2 separate regions of the Homo sapiens genome follow, and region 2 is linked to region 1. Evidence: fine-mapped expression QTL. A gene starts in region 1. The other region holds a variant in brackets. All regions are shown on one strand. Distances are from middle to middle. Region 1 holds the start of SH3TC1 (SH3 domain and tetratricopeptide repeats 1). Region 2 overlaps SH3TC1 (SH3 domain and tetratricopeptide repeats 1).

Evidence for each region. PIP is the estimated chance that this variant, and not a neighbour inherited with it, causes the effect. A credible set is the group of variants that fine-mapping cannot tell apart.
Region 2: its variant is the best candidate, but not a certain one, in a credible set for the expression of SH3TC1 in visceral fat (GTEx, PIP 0.87).

The regions. Positions count from the first base shown.
Region 1 is chr4:8,197,772-8,202,117 of GRCh38, reverse strand. It overlaps SH3TC1 (SH3 domain and tetratricopeptide repeats 1), which reads right to left and starts at 2,828. Exons shown (of 18, transcript NM_018986.5): 1 at 2,713-2,828. RefSeq lists enhancers at 542-751, 1,482-1,631, 1,762-1,811, 1,942-1,991, 3,022-3,141 and 1 more and a silencer at 2,622-2,811.
Region 2 is chr4:8,217,490-8,221,810 of GRCh38, reverse strand. SH3TC1 (SH3 domain and tetratricopeptide repeats 1) reads right to left here. Exons shown (of 18, transcript NM_018986.5): 8 at 3,464-3,540; 9 at 2,281-2,476. Among named protein-coding and RNA genes, the nearest start is that of SH3TC1, 20 kb to the right of the region's middle. The variant A/G (reference allele first, on the strand shown) is at 2,217.

The sequences.
Region 1 (4,346 bases):
TGCAAGGCCAGGCTGTCTTCCCATCTCCTCTCCGGAAGCACATGGAGGCGTCTCAACAAAGCGCTGGAATCCACTCCCTGGGCATGCGAGCTCCCTGGTTTAAGGGGTCTTTCGCTCCGAACGCCTGACCTTGGAGTCCTTGTCCTCCCATCTCTGCCTTTTTGTCCCTCAGAAGCTGGGTCTTATGTCCCTATAGGCAGAGCAGGAGTCCCAGCAGCCTCTCTCCATCCACTGGCTGATGCCCGGGACACCTGCCTGCCTCCCAGCCCACCACCTCCCCCTGGGTTAGGAACAGGCCTGTTCGAAACGGCATCCAGGGCTTCTCCGGGCCTGGCACACAGCTGGTACTCAGAGACTGTCTTCTGAGAAAAGGAGGGCTCCCCAGGCTCAGGGAATTTCCCACCTGCTGTTATAACCCTAAGCGTGGGATTCCTGTGCAGAGCCTGGCGATGAGGAAGTGAGCTCCTTCTCCACAGCGTCCCCTCCCTCAGCCCTGCAGGCCCAGCCACCACTGCACAAGCAGAGGCCCCAACCACGGGCAGGTGTTGACGCCCCCAGGGGCCAGCTCACCCAGCTGGGGGACCACCAAGCAGCCTGCAGGACTCTCTCCTTCCTGCCTTCATCCTGTTTGTTCAGTTTATCATCAGGACAAACCCTTGGGGGGCCCTGGATGGGTCAGAACAGGCTCCAGCCCCAGGCCAGCCTCCAGCCCCGGGGGAAGGGGTGGAGTTTGGCTCCAGAACACGGAGACGTGGGGCCAAACCCCGGTGTCTGGGAGGCCTCTCCATGCCTCAATTTACTGAGCCAGAAAATGAGAATGAGCACGCACACCGCACAAGTGGGTCGAGTGGGTTAAAGGGACAGTGCTCCTGGTCCACAGTCAGAGTTTGGTGAATGTGGGTTGGAAGAAGAAGGGAGAGGGCCGCGGCCAGCCCTGAATGGGTTTGGGAAGCTTTGGCCAAGCTTTCGCCAGGCTCTTACGGAACAAATACTTCTAGGGCCATTGAGACCTCACCTATGCCACCAAGCACCTCCGGAGGGTTGGCTTGTCACCTCGCATCCTGGGGTGACACTGTCCTTTCAAAATTCATGCCCCCAGAAACCTCAGAATGGGGCCTTATTTGGAAATGGTCTGCGCAGATGAAGCGACCTTCCCTTGGGATGAGGGTGTTCCAGATGAGGATGGCCCTAAATCCAGTGCGTGGTGTCCTTGTAAGTAAAAGAGAGGACACGGAGACACACAGAGGAGCCGGGCAGGAGGCCATGTGACCACCAGGGCGGAGAGTGGACTGATGTAATCACAGCCAAGGAGCGCCCTGAGCCACAGGCAGCGGGAAGAGGCAGGGAGGAGCCGCCCAGTAGCCTTCTGAGGGACGCCTTGAGTTCGGAATTCCGACCTCCAGAGCCGCGAGAGAACACGACCGAGAGGGCTGTGTCCTGCGCTCTGGCAGCAGGGGAAACCGGCGCACCCGTGCGCTGCTGGGCCCTGCCTTGCTCTTCTGTGTTGTGCGGCCATCGTCACCCGTGTTGCTGGAAGAGTGAGTGACGTCTCCATGCAAAAAACGCTGGCCCAGCGCCCCACACGGGACACAGTTGTCATCACTGTCAACAACAGTGTTGACAGTCACATAATTATGGCCATCCAGGGTGCTCACAGCATCCTCGGCTCACCTGGAGGAGGGAGGCACAGCTGTGCCCCTTTCACGGATGAGCCATCAGCTGCGGTGACTCTGCCTGCCCAAGGTCACACAGCCAAGCAGCACAGGTGGGGTTGAACCCAGGTGGTCAGAGCCCAGCCCCCACATACCCATCCTAAACCCAGACCTGACTCGGGCCCAGCCTTGCCTCCAGCCACAAGCTCAGCCGCAGCCCCGCTGCCTGGCGCTGGGAGGCCACACCCTGAGTGGCCGGCCCACATGCAGGCTGCCCCTGGCCCTGGCACTGGCCGACACCGCTAACACCCCCCAGCGTCACTTTGCTATTCATCTCATCTGAGCCTCGTCAACGGCAAAAGGTTGGAAACTCCCGCTTCACAGACAGGGCAGGGCTCCCAGGGCTCCTGGGGATCACGCACAGGCCCAGAGGGGGTCTCAGTGGTGTACACACACAGGAGCACACGCCCCGGCACACCTGCAGTTGAAGGCTGGGCCCAGACCCTCCCTGGAATTTTCAGGCTGAAGCCCCTGGTCCAGTTGCTGGTCCATTTGGTTGTTGGAAAAGAGGCCCAGGTGGCGGCATCAGAGTGGCCAGTTATAGCCACTGCGGTGCCGGGTGAGGCTGAGGCGCTGGGCTCGCCCTGGTAGGTCTGGTAGTGTGGCCCAAGCTAACCGGGCGCTGGGGTCACACCTGAGATCCGCTGGACTTGGAATCCAGCGACAGGCTGGCTCTGCTCCCAGACCCCCAGGGCCGCTCATGCCAAGGGCCAGCACGGGGTCAGGCCAGGTCCCAGAAGCAAGGGTGCTTGGTCAAAGCTGAAATCATTGCCCTCAATCACTGCGGATTGGCACTGCCAGCACCTGTGAGCTCTGAGTGGGGTCTGCTGAGGGTGCCGACGACCTCCCCGAGGCCCCCAGCTCGCAGTTTCGCTCCACCCCCATCCCAAACAGGTCAGAAAAGTCCTCAAGAAAGTGTAAAGATCCAACCATGGCAAGACTGGCAGACAGCAGCCTGCTCGGCCAGTCCACGCCCCGCCTGCCCCGGAGCCCCCCATACCTGCGGCGTGTTCCTCAGAGGCAGCTCCCAGGCCCACAGGGCCGTAGCACGCAGGAACCAGGTGGCCGCTCCTGGCCCAGCGCTGGCTGGCCCCACGGGGCTGTCTCCAGCTGGACGGAGCAGGCAGGGGCCGCCCACAGCCAGGCTGACTGCACAGCGGCCTCCGCCCCCTGCTTCCTGCCCTACTTCCTCCCTGCGCCTGAGGGCCGGTGACGGAGAGGCAGGCCCAGGGCGGCTGCACAGACACCGCAGCCGGTTGATCATTAGCTCTTTCCTGGACGAGGTCCAGGCCCTGTCCTGCCTGCCCGCTGCCCAGCCCCCAGGCTCTGTAGTAGAGGCTAGGGGCACCCAGTCCCCCGCCAGGCTGGGATTGGGGAAGTCCACCAGCCACCGGCTGCCTCAGCCCTGCCAGCCTCAGCTCTGATCTCTGTTCCTCTTCCATTTACTGCACACACACACACACGCATGCCTGCACACATACATGCATGCACACACACACGCATGTGCATGCAGACACACATACATATGCATGGGCACACAGAGACTCACAAGCACAAGTGTGTGCACACATGGACAGGCACACGTATGCACACAAACGCTCACGTGCAATTTCTTCCGTCTCTGCCCGGGTGCCCTCCGGGCCACTGGCTCCATCAATGGGAACATTTAGGGGAAGAGATGGGCTCCCCTCCTCCTCACCGCAAGCTCTCCTTGCTAGCCTGGCCTGTCCCAACGGGTCTACCTCTTTACCCTCCCACCGTCTCCAGGCCTGAGCCAGGTTTGAGAGCAGAAACCTTCCCAGCCAGGCAGACCCAAGGCCAAAGCACGTAATCTCGCCCCTGCCTGCTGAGGAAGCCTGGCCTGGGCTCACGTCAGCTGGGACAAGAGGCAGAACTGAACTCAAATTGCCCTGTTGGTCCCGCCTGTCTGCCTGCTCTGATGCCCTTGCCAACACAGGAGTGTGAGCACCCACGTGGTGGGTGTGGGCTGCGGGCTCCGGCCCAGCTCTAGGAAGTGGGAATGGGAGGGATCCCTCCAGCCTGTGCTGTGATAGGTCGGAGCTTTACACACACCTGGTTTGAGAAAACCAAGAATAATCCCTAAGTCAAATAGTTATGTATCCATCTCACAGACAGGAAAACTAAGGCTCAGGGAGGTAATGTGACATGCCCAAGGCCAGTGACCAACAAGAAGATAAGACTGGAACCAGGTCTGACTGGTTCTGAAGGCTTTAGGGCTGGGCTTTTCAACCAAGGCACTACCGACATTTGGGGCCGCATCCTTCTTTGTTGCAGGGCGGGGGGCTGTCCTGTGCACTGGAGGGTTTTAGCTGGTCCCTGGCCTCCACCCACTGGATGCCAGTAGCCCCCTCCTCTAATCATAGCAGCCAAACATAGCTCAGATATTGATCCCCTGGGGGTGAAGTCACCCCAGGCTGAGAACTCCCAGCCCAGGTGAGCTACTCAGGTCAAAGCCCCTCCAGCCCACACCTGCGTCCTTCATCCTCGCCCTCCCGTCCTGTTCACCTTTCTCTAATCACAGGCTCTGCCCAGGGGCTGACGCTTACCTCAAGTCCCTGCATCCTGCACGGTGAGCCCTCAAGTCACACCCTCCCTCCGCCCCACTGAGGCCAG
Region 2 (4,321 bases), 20 kb before region 1:
TCATTGTCTACAAAGGCCATCATTGTGGCTCCTGGCAAAATCTGAGTAAGATCTGTAGATAATGGCATTGTATCTGCGTTCATTTCCTGATTTCGACAGTTGTACTGTAGTTATGTAAGCAGATGTCCTGGTTTTAGGAACCACATACTGCATTATTTAGGGGTAAAGGAACATCATGTTTGCAACTTACTCTCAAAGTGTTTAGAAAAAAATAGAAGTGAAAGAGAGAAAGCAATAAAGCAAATGTCATAACATGTTAACATTTGTGCAATCTGGGTGAGGGCGTGTGGGAATGTTATACTCTTTTTGCAACTTTCTTCTAAGTCTGAAATTGTGTCAAAAATAAAGTTAAAGAAAAAAAAAAAGAAGAGCTACCAGGTTGTTCACTAAATAAAAGATGAAAACCCCGGGTCTGGAATAGGAAAGATATTCAGCAAACATTTGTTGAGTGAATGAGAGAAGTCAGAATTTCTCCAGCTGTGAACAGGACTAATGGCACCCAGCCCCGTCATCCTTCTGGGTTAAAGGAAGGGAACAAACTAGCTCATTCCCTGGCTCTTCTCTGACCCCTTGTAAGTTCAGTACATGTTGACTTCACACGGCCCCCAGTGACCTGTTGAGAATTTGTGGTCTCCCTTGGAGATGGTAGGGATCAGCTAGACCAAGGATCCCCAAAGAGTGTCCCATGGAACACCAGCTCAGCCAAAAGCAAACAGGGTTGTGGAGGATTCTGGAGGTTAAGTAAGTGTGGAAAAGGCATTTCAACAGGAAAAAGATGCCTTGTTTGTGCTGGGAATCCCTGGGATCACCCACAAGGGATGTGGACAAAGCTTTTCCCCACTCCTTAGGGCATGATGAAGTCTATGATGGAGCAGTGTGTGAGAACATGCTTTGGGAACTGCTGGTCTAGCTCCTGCCATCAGTGCATGGCCTGGCCAGCTTCCAGCTGCTTCTGATGCACAGGTGCCAGAGGTACCAGAGCAGACGGACCCTTTCCATGAGGGGAACAAGTGAACGGCTTGATGAGGCATGGTGACAAACGGCCTCTGAGACCTGGTCTGAGAGGTGTTGGTCTGTCGCAGCCCTAAACATTGAACAGGACCACTGAAGACAAGCATCTCATTGGTGGGGCCAGGACCAGGATCACATGACCCAGAAGGTGGCCTCTCCATGCACCCACATTCTCTGGGCTCCTTGACTGAGGTCTTAACAAGGACAAGGCCAGGGAAACAGAATTCCATCAAAGGATGGGCACAGCTGACTCCTCTCCAAAGACCCCCTGCTGCTGCTCGCACTGGGCAGTGAGAACACAGAAGTGACCAGGGAATTCTTCTCTTGGAGTTCCCTGGCTGGGAGCAGGCAGGTCATGGGTGGCGTGTAAATCACATAGGAAGAGGCGTATGGCCAGAAGAGTGCCCCCCCCAGAGGAGCCACGGGGGCTGATGGAAGGCCCCAGGAGAACACGGGGTTCAGGGAGAGGGGGCATCCCAGGCAGAAGGACACACGTGTCACCCAGAGCAGTTTTGGAAGGCACAAGGTACTCTGTGCAGCCCATGGGGGCCTGCAAGGTCGGGCCCAGAAGCTTCCTGGGGCTTAACGGAGGAGAGCGACGTGTGTACTGGATTAAATCGTGTCCCTCAATTCATGTCTCCCGGAACCTCAGAAGGTAAGCTTTCTTGGAGAAAGGATCTTTGCAGATGTAATTAGTTCAGCTAAGATGAGGTCAGATTGGAGTTGGATGGGTGCTAGGAGATGGGCACCCTTTTAAGAAGAGAATACGGAAGACACACAGAGGAAGACAGCCACGTGGAGACGGCGGCAGAGTGCAGTGATGTGGCCACAGGTCAAGGAACGCCCACGGCCACCAGGAGCTGGAAGAGGCAAGAAGGACCCTCCCCTAGAGTCTCCAGAGAAAATGTGGCCCTTCTGGCCTTGGTTTTAGACTTTTGGCCTCCACAACTCTGAACAAGCACATTTCTGTTGCTTTAAGCCCCCGGCGTGCAGTGCCTTATCACGGTAGCCACGGAAAGATGATGCACATGGGCAGGTGTGCATTCGAGGGAACGCTCTCCCTGCAGCAGCCCGGAGAAAGGACGCCAGGGAACCCTGGAGTCAGGCACTGGGGCCAAGGGGGCAGCAGCCTGAGGACAAGGGAAGAGACTAGGCATCGTCCACAGTGACTTTCAGGCTTGTTACCTGGGGAGCCAGGTGGACGC[A/G]GCAACGTCCCCTTAGGTGAGATGGGGGTGGGTTCAGGAAAGGGGCGGGGCTCCAGCCACTCACTCGGACACGGGGCCCTGCATGCTGATGAGGCTGCTCCGCACAAACCCCACCCGGCCCGAGGCTGCGTGTCGGCCCACGCACCAGGGCAGGCTGGGCACCTGCGCCCCAAGGATCTCGATGAGGTCGCCACCTCGGAAGGTCATCTCTTCGGGCCCCGAGCCCTGGAAGTCTGCCAATGCCGAGGCCAGGCCCACAGCTGCGGAAGAAAGCCACATGGTGAGTGCCAGGGAGACCAAATGGGGGCCAGAGCGGGCAGACAGGGCCGATGCCAGCCACCCTGAACCATGGGGAATTCATCTTTTGGTTACTAGGAGGTTCGTAGTAAAGCTTGGTTTCCGCAATGAGGGAGGGAATGTCTACGTGGTCCTCAGAGGGGATGTTTTTATCCCTCTGTTGAAGATGAGAAAAATGGAGGCTCAGAGATGTTGATAAATAAGCCTCGGCCATCAGCCTCCAAGGCCAAGGCTCTTTCCTCCTTTCCTTCTGCAGCCACAACCCCCGGCCCCACCTACTCCCCACCCGGCTCCTGCATGGGGCTTTAGTCCCCCTGACAGGTGCGCAGGCCACCCAGACACCGGCAGCTCTGACAGGTGCACAGGCCACCCAGACACCGGCAGCTCTGACAGGTGCACAGGCCATCCAGACACCGGCAGCTTGCCACAGAGCACAAAGCGCTGGACCCGGCATCCAAGGAGAAGGGCTGCTGGCAGTGCCAGCTTTTCATAAAGAGGACGCGGTCACGGTCCTCTGTTAGTGCACGTGGCAAATTCAGCCAGCGCCAGCCCACCTCGGCCCAGGGCCTTCCAGGCGTTTCCCATGGTGACAGAAGGCTAGACTCTGAGACTGTTGGGTTGCACTGTCTGAGAAGTGGCGTTTGGGAGCTCTTTGCAGACAGTGGCCGGGGGCCCTGGTGCAGCTTCACTGAGCATCCTATGACGCTGCACCAGCCCCCAGAGCTTCCTGAGTGTCAGTTATGACCTCACAAGCTGGAGAAGACTCGGTTGGTACAAAAGTAATTGCGGTTTTTGCCATTGAAAGCAATAACAAAAACCACAATTACTCTTGCACTACCTGATAGCTATCTCTCTGGCTCAGGGAGGATGTAGGGCAACTTCCAAAATGTTGGTGCTGCTCCCTAGCACACACATTTCCCCAAAAAAGAGAGGCCCATGGAAACACTTACCCATCAGCGGGTTGCCGGGCATCACAGGGCCACCCATGGCATCGTCGATGGGGTCCTGGGGGATCCTAAGAGCCCACCTGGAGCCGGAAGAGGGAGGTCTTTGCTGCGGGATTTCAGATTTGGGGCAGATACATCCTGTGCAGAGACTGGACAGGCCAGCAGCCCCCAGCAACCTGAGCAGGTCCCTCGCCTCCCCCAACACACACACGTGCACACACACACACACACACATGCCTGCCCAGGTGTGTGGCCTTCAGGCCCCGTGCGTGTGGCACTGCCCCCAGGGAGCCCCGCACCCCTCAGCCTAGGGCCCGTGTCCTGGAAACACCGCCACCCCTGTGGGCCTGGAACCCTGCAGACCTCCAAAGCACCTGCCTCCCCCAGCTCCACACAGTGAGGGGTGAGGGAGATCCCAGCCTGGGGCTCTGGAGGCCTGGATTCAAATCCTAGTACCACTGTGACTTTGCCATATAACCTGGACAGATCACTCCTCTCTCAGCCTCAGTTCCTTCAGCCAGAAAAAAAAGGAAGCTGGACTAGATGACTGACAATCCCTCTTTCCCAGATGGCAGAACACTCTCAGTGTCCCCTGTTGGGACACCACTGGCCAGAGCACATAGGAAGGATTCTTAGGAGAAGCTCCTCTTGGGTCTCAGTAATGAGAGAAGCCAAGCCACAGCCTGTCACTTGAGACACTGCAAATCAAGAGATTGAGGTTCTCTCTTTGCTTTGGCTACCAGGAAGCTCCAACCCAAGTTAATGCCCCCCGCTTCAGCAAGTGAACAGGAGTTTGCATGTCACCTGTCCTCACATCCCCTGGCTCTATCTGTGGGTCCCGTGTGCCTTCTCACTCTGGAT